2 linked regions of the Homo sapiens genome follow. The protein of the gene in region 1 interacts with the protein of each later gene in a biochemical or structural test. Each region holds a gene or a part of one and is shown on either strand. Other genes may lie near its edges.

The links. Proteins that work in one complex are often made in the same cells at the same time.
Region 2: the proteins of HERC4 (region 1) and UBE2L3 form a complex in vitro, tested with the Homo sapiens proteins (2 studies listed by BioGRID).

The regions. Positions count from the first base shown.
Region 1 is NC_000010.11:68,072,484-68,076,660, reverse strand, and holds the start of HERC4 (probable E3 ubiquitin-protein ligase HERC4), read left to right. Parts: upstream 1-1,377; 5' UTR 1,378-1,517; exon of another isoform or gene 1,518-2,974; 5' UTR 2,975-3,004; exon of another isoform or gene 3,005-3,474; 5' UTR 3,475-3,552; coding exon 3,553-3,778; intron 3,779-4,177. UniProt on the Homo sapiens protein: Probable E3 ubiquitin-protein ligase involved in either protein trafficking or in the distribution of cellular structures. Required for spermatozoon maturation and fertility, and for the removal of the cytoplasmic droplet of the spermatozoon.
Region 2 is NC_000022.11:21,591,714-21,595,213, reverse strand, and holds part of UBE2L3 (ubiquitin-conjugating enzyme E2 L3), read right to left. Parts: intron 2,354-3,500; coding exon 2,258-2,353; intron 1-2,257. UniProt on the Homo sapiens protein: Ubiquitin-conjugating enzyme E2 that specifically acts with HECT-type and RBR family E3 ubiquitin-protein ligases.

The DNA of each region.
Region 1 (4,177 bases):
GTTGGCAACCACCAGAAGCTAGCAGAGAAGCCTGGAAAAGATTATCTCTCAGAGACCCCAAGAGAGAACCAAGCTTACTTTCACCTTGATTTTGAACTGGTCTTCAGAACTGTGAGACAATAAATTTCTGTTGTTTTAAGCCACCGAATCTGTTTTAATTTATATGGCAAGCCTAGGACACGAATACACACACTTGAACATATTCTAGCACAGACAGTTCTTATCTAAAACATGTTTTTCAACAAGAGATAAAGAAACAGGCCAGGACCGGTGGCTCACGCCTGTAATTCCAGCACTTTGGGAGGCCGAGGCGGGTGGATCGCCTGAGGTAACGAGTTTGAGACCAGCCTGGCCAATATGGCGAAACCTTGTCTCTACTAAAAATGCAAAAATTAGCCGGGCATGGCGGCGCATGCCCGTTGTCCCAGCTACTCAGGAGGCTAAGGCGGAAGTTCCAGTGAACTGAGATCGCACCATTGCACTCCAGCCTTGGGGAACAGAGCGAGACTCTGTCTCAATAAATAAATAAATAAATAAATAAATAAAAATAAGAAAAGAAAAAGAAAGATGGCCTATTTGTGGAACTTCTTCTAGGTACTGAATATTCATTCTAGCAATACCCAACTTACAATTTCAAAAGTGCATTGTTTCAAGTTCTCCTGCTTTTTAAGAAGTTAAGGCTGGCCTAGGAGATCCAGACTTCGTTTTTATGAATCAGGGACTGCAGCCAATGTGTAATTTTCTCTGATAGAATGAGACCCTGCAATTCAAGCCTATCTTTCAGGGAGAGTGTAGAAAGTGATGGTAGCCAACACTGTACAAGGAAACTGAACTGGTGGTGGTGGTAGTAGAGTAGCTTCAGCCATTGCCATCAACACATCTCACATCCTCAGACTGGCTCCAGTTGAGGCCATGGGATAAAATAACTCTTCACCAGTCTTTATGTTCATAATTGTGATGTTTCATCTGCTACTTTAAAATCTCCTTGGGAAAAGAGAGAGTAAAATAATAAAAAGACTAGCTAGCATCCATGAGCACAAAGACAACCAAACCAAAAAACAAAGTGATTTTCTTCATTAAAAGGCTTTGTGCACGCCGAAGCATTCTCAAAAACAGTTGACATCTTCTTCGTTTGTCTTCGCAAACTCCAACTTTCTGTATTTGGCTTTTCCCTCTTAAAGCAACGCAAAGCGGCACACTGCGCAGGCGCCTGTGGCCAGCCACCCCCCCCCCCCCCCCCCCGGAAGATTCGGCGCAGGCGCCGGTGCCGGGGCCGGGAAGTGGGCGGGCTCGCGCGCGTGCTCTGCGGTTCACTTCCGGCCAGCCCCTCCCCCGCCTCCCTCGCGTGGCCACCTCCCCCTCTGCCTTCTCCTACCCAGTCTCTTCCCCAACTCTCCCCACCCCTGGTGCTCTCCGCCCCGCTTGCCTCCCGTTCTTCCCCGCCCGCTCCATCCGGGTCGCTGACGGCTGTCTCTGGACTGGACAGCAGTGGCGTCCGCTTTTCTCTAAGGAACCCGGTAAAGTTTCCCAGGGGCCGGGGAGGGGAGCAGCGGAGCAGCGGCACAGACGCCGGAGGTGCCCTGGTGATCGTCGCCACTGGCTGACAGAGGAGGGTCCCAGGAGCCGGAGACGTGCTTCAGCGACCGCGCTGCCTTGCTCTCTGGGCAGGGGCCGCCCCCCGTCACCTTGGGCTTCCCCTACCCTGAAGGGCTTGGGCGAGTTGTGGCCCCAGCGGGTTCGGGGGCGTGTGACGGCGTTAGGGAGGGGCAGGCCGGGCTGGGCGGATGCAGGCCGGCCCGGCATAGGGCGCTTTCTCCGCGCTTCCTGGGGGTGAGGGGCGTGGGGCGAGGGCAGGGCTGTGGCTCCCTGGCCCCGGGGCTGGAATGTCTCATCTGCCTGGGGATGGGCTTCTCTCAGGTTGAGGCCGCGCACTGCCAAGCCTCGGCCGCCGGCCTCTGAAGCTGTTGCGAGCGGCCGGTTGCGGTAGTCGTCTGCTTGGCTGCGAGGTTGGGTGTGTGCAGATGATTTCTCTTTCCCAGTCCCCATGAGCTGATCTGGGTGCACGTTCAGGGAAAGACGGGACTAAACTGCTTCTCATTTCCCTACCTGTTGCTGGCGAGAGGACGCCTCTGTGTTTTAAAGAAAAGGGTGGTTAAACCTCGCGCGCTGAAGTCGGGGTATTTTCCTGTATTACTCTTATTTTGTTTTTAAATATGGGAAGACAATGCAGAACTCTTGGGAATTATCGAGTTCTGATACCCCAAAAGAATGAAATCAAACTTCTGTTAATGGGATGATGGGTCGTGGAATGGGACACCTTGGGCACTTGCTAACAGGAACATAGGAAAATTGGAGTTGAAACTTCGCAGGCTCTGTAAGAATGTGGATGACTGCTACAGAATAAGGCTGACTTCCTGTAATTATGATATTTAGTAACGCGATGTGTTTAAAAGTCTACGTATGTATAGATGAAGTGGACTCTGTTATTTGTGTCTTTCTTTACAAGTGAGGAAATATTCAGTCAGTGTGCTGGAAAGTTCTACAGATTTCGCCATCAGACTATCCATTCCTATTCTTGAAAAATCTGCAGTGCTGGAGTTATTTGCAATTCCCCCCCGCCAATCTTTAAATAATTGTCTCAGAGATATAGATAGATATAGATTGCCCACGGGTGATTTTTTTAATCCCGGTTACCACTTGTAATAAAAGAGGTTGAATTTTGGAGAGAATTGATATTTAAATTGCATGTTTTTTTTTCTGTATTATAATTATGCACATTGATTTAGTTTTAAAATTAGTGAGGTTGGAATGTTAGTATTTTGATTTGAAATCTGGGATCTTTGGAGGTGATTTAAGATTATGGTTTGGTAAGAGAATCTTCATTTTCTCTCTGGGCTAAAGAGTAATTGGGAGAGTCGTTTAAATTGTGGAAAATTGCTTTAAATTTCCATTATTGGTTTTATTTCTGTTACAGATAAGAACTCCATTTTCTGTTGATGTGGAGGTAGGTATTAGAAAGCTTAATTATACTAGGATTGCAAGGTTATGTTTCTGCAGTTGGCTAAATTTTGCACTGTGTATATTTGCTTTTTGGGCAGAGGAAAGATGTCTTATTTCTTGTTCCCATTGAAATTATTTAAAGCAAAAAGTAGAAAAAATTGTGATTAATTTCATCAAGGTACTTATTCCTATTAGTTTAGTCTATCACAAGATAACCAGAAGTCAAAACTAGTTAATATGTTTTAAATTTTGCAAAGGATCATAGAAAGTGTCATATTTTCCCTAAAAATTTCTGTATGATACATTTTAAAAAATACAACTGATTGGTTTTTGAAACTGAATGATACTTATGTAGCATGTTATAAAGTATATTTAATGTTTACCATGTAGCAATTATTGTAGCCTAGCACTTGAAAGAGCAATTATACATCCTTTTTTCTTTGAAGTCATATTAACTTCTTTCTATTTCCTCAGACATAGGGTACCTCCAACTTTCCGGGGTTTCAGAAGAGAATTTTTTATTGAAACTGGAAGACCAAAATAATTACAAGCATGTTGTGCTGGGGAAATGCATCCTTTGGGCAGCTAGGTTTGGGTGGAATTGATGAAGAAATTGTACTAGAGCCCAGAAAAAGTGACTTCTTTATAAATAAAAGGGTCCGAGATGTAGGATGTGGACTCAGACATACTGTGTTTGTTCTGGATGATGGAACAGTGTACACATGTGGATGTAATGATCTAGGACAGCTAGGTCATGAAAAATCCAGAAAGAAACCAGGTAAGTTGAAATGTTTTTAAAATTTGCTATTTTTAATAATTATATCATTTTAAATTTGAATCATCGTATAATTTCTCTAGTTGTAACTATATGTTTATCAAGCTTTAAAAGCAAAGTAGAAGTTATGTATTTCCATTATATGTGTATATTTGTATGGTTCTAAGTACTTTATGTTGTGGTTTCTTTTTTTTTACTACTAGTATTATAAAACCTTATTTTGTATGACGATATAAAACAATAAAGAAAATCAGCCTGCAGTATATAAATCTTTGGTACAGAGTGTGTAGTGTGCAGGTCCTCTTTAATAAATTCTGTTCAGCCACCCTGGATAGATTTTAAATGCATAATTTACTCTGTGTTTACCTTACTTTGGGAGGGGGGAGGAAAACAAGACGGAAG
Region 2 (3,500 bases), on another chromosome or scaffold:
CAGGGACAAGAGCAGCCCTGGCTGTTGCTTACCGTCTCCAAGGTGAAACTTTGGCCTGGATAGCTCCCCAGAGCCTCAGCCCAAGCACACTTGGATTCTACCAGCCAGCCTCCACCTTTGCCCTAGTAAGATCTTAGCCCACTGCTCCATAGCCCCTGCCAGCGTGAAACCAGAGGGAGGCCTTTGCATGAGTTGGGGCAGAGCATGCCCAGCAGCAATCTACCCGTGGAGCTGGCTAGCAGGCTCTCAGGCCACTAAATTCTCAGGGCCAGACTGCCCAAGCCTTACCACTTAAAACCATTCCATTCATTTTTATCATTTTCCAAAGAGCCACAGATTAACTGTTCATTTCTTTGCTCAGTAGACTACACAATCTCAATTAGAAAAGGGACAAGAGGTCAGATGGTCCCGGCCATCTTCAGGTCCCTAGAGTAGGCAAGGGCTGCACTCACAGGCCAACCCCTCCCATGCAGAGGTGTCTCTGCCACCCACACCCTTTGCCCTGAGCCCTAACACCATCAAGCCTAAAGAAATCTAAAGGACTCATCTTCAAAATCAGACTGGAAGCTCCCAGATTTAAACATTCTGAGCATACTAAATCATTACAAAGCATATCTTTCCTTAGTTATCCAAATGATTATGGAAATAAACTACAAATCCAATAACTGCTGATCAAATTCAGGGACTTAAAAAAAAAAAAGCATGACCTTATAACCAGCATCAAGAAGAAAGCATCTACAGGAGGGAGCATGCTCCATGCTCACCTTATAACCAGCATCAAGAAGAAAGCATCTACAGGAGGAAGCATGCTCCATGCTCACCTTATAACCAGCATCAGGAAGAAAGCATCTACAGGGAGAAATCATCTACAGGAGGAAGCATCTACAGGAGGAAGCATGCTCCATGCTCATGACCTTATAACCAGCATCAGGAAGAAGCATCTACAGGAGGAAGCATGCTCCATGCTCTGCTTTGGCAAAGCAGCCAATCCATCCATGAGAACAAATTATATACAGGACAGCGGCAGGCACAGGGCAAGGGCCAGAGGCTCAGATGTGCAAAGTGGGAATGAAAAGGAACAGAGAAGGTGAGTGGATGAGGAAGAACAGGAAAGGAGGGCACTCACGCAGGACAAGGGTGTGAGCTGAGGTAGCTGAAGGCTACACAATGACCAAGTGAGGCCGCCTGGTGGACAGATGGTGCAGCTTCCGGGGAGAAGGCAGGAATGGAGACAGGTGTGGGAATCCTTCATGTCTGGCATAATCATCTATGATGCCGAAAGTAGTAGGGTCCCGAGACAAAACAGAACAGGAGAACAGCAGGAGACCAACAAGAGTCATGTTTAAGAGTGAGGAGGAAGGAGTGGCAGAACAGGAGCGAGTGGCAGGCTGGTCACAGGACTGGGGGCTGGAATGCTGCCCGTGCTCCAAAAGCTCAGGAGGCAAGCAAGGGCCATGATGCCAGCACTGCCGAGCTAGAGGTGTGACAACAGTGGGGGCAGCCTGTGGGCTGGGTGTGACGTGGTTTCAGGAGAGTGAGAGGAAGGGGGATTGCAAACTGGAGTTAATTATAAGACAAGCCTCTTGAAGGGGAGGGGATCAAAGGATGCAGAAAAGAGTAGGCACTAAGAGGGTGCTAAGGAAAGCCATCGTTAGGAGGGCCTTGAGCCCATCAGAAGGCAGAAGACTGTGAGATGGGGGAGCTGGGCTGTGGGGGCAGACACTGGAGGCATAAGCCCCAGAAAAGACATGGGGTGAGGGGAACATGTGGGCAATTAGGAAAAGGGACTTGAGACAAATGGAAGGCACAGGTTGGAGGGGACCAGGAATAAAGCCCGAAATACAGGTATCCAAAGGGTTAGAGACATGAATGCAAAACCAAGAGAGAAAGCAAAATATCTAGAGGGGAATGCTTGTCCCCTCCTGAGGAGCTCAGAGAAGAAGGTCCTGCTGATCCATCAGGCCAGGCGCAGGGAAGTCAGGAAAGAGCAGGAGCACAGACACACTCCTTTTCTCTGTGTCTACAGATCTGCAAAGCTCAGGACTCCCTGAATTTGACAAAACGAGTGCCAAGATGTGACTCTACTCAGGACCCAAGGCTACACTCCCTACCTTATCACCCTAGAGCGACAGCCACTTCTGTGCATCTGCTGGCTGCCTAGACTAAGAGCCTACTAAGGAGCAGAAAAACAAGCCCAACAGCACACACATCACCTTAAAGAATAATCTGGTAGGAAGTGGAAGTGTTCAATACTCACAGGAACAATAAGCCCTTGCCAAGTCAATAAATTAGCTTCATCAACCTGGATGTTACGGAAGTTTTTCATCCCACATTTGCGGATTTCTTCAAGCTCCTGTTGATTGACAAAGCATAAAGGGGTGTCAAATAGGGGAAAGCACCACATATTAAGATCCCTCCTGATGCCCTCAAATTAAACCAAGTGCCAAAAATGCTAATGACAAAATTGGACAGTGAGGACTAAACTGTGCTTGGAGTGGTTAAGGAGGCATGGAGCTGCCATGGCGGTCCCCTCTGCAAGGTTGTTGCCTCTCCCCATGCCCCAGACCAAGACAAGCCCCCACCTCAGTGAACCCCCCTGAATAGGACAGGGGGAACCATGCTTCTGCAGACGTACCACCTCCTCTTTGGGTTGGTCACCATGGCTGTTTAAATCCCTCAGCACCCTGCATAGGGCAGACATGTGGCAGGAGCTATCCTGAGGTGCTCTACACCTGATACCTTCCAATCAAGATTCATTAAGCACTGATTATGCACCGGATGCTGAGAAGCTAAAGATGAATAAAACTGGGGACTGGGAACAAACCAGACACAAACGCATATCCAGTTTTCTACCCAGTGCTATAAGTGTGATTTCAGAAGGACTCCACCTCAACATGGGCACACAGCAAAGAGAACCATCCAGTCTGGGACTGGGGTGGGAGTGGGGGGGTGGGGACGGGAAACCTTCACTGAGCCTGTTTCCTCAGCTGCAAAACAGACCCAGAGTGCAGAAAAGGAAAGGGAAGCCATGTTGTGGGCAACAGGACCCCTTGCAAATATGTGGGGTTATTGTTGTATAAACAGTCAATGCAGCAAGTGCCATTTCACCCAGAAAGCACAACTTTACGACTTCAGGGTCCTGCCTGAGATGTCTTCAGAACTGTCTGTCACCTGTTTTTCAACTGTGCACCAGCCTGACATTTCCCATTGCCTCCAACATCTCAGTGAATGCCTGGCAGGCGCTATAACCCAAACCACCCAGCAATGCCCTCCTGCCAGAACACCAGCCTCGCCAACATTCCTCCACTCTGACACATGAAGTGCCACTCTACCCGCCTCAGCCCGGCCTCCCATCCAGTGGCACAAAAGCCGCCTCCACACCTGTCAGGCACCTTCTCTTCTGCAGCCCGAGCACCATCCAGCTGAGCCCTGCCTCCTTCGCCAGGCTGCTTCCTCTGGCCCAGCTCCAGCACCCTCCAGAACCTCCTTACGTGGTACTT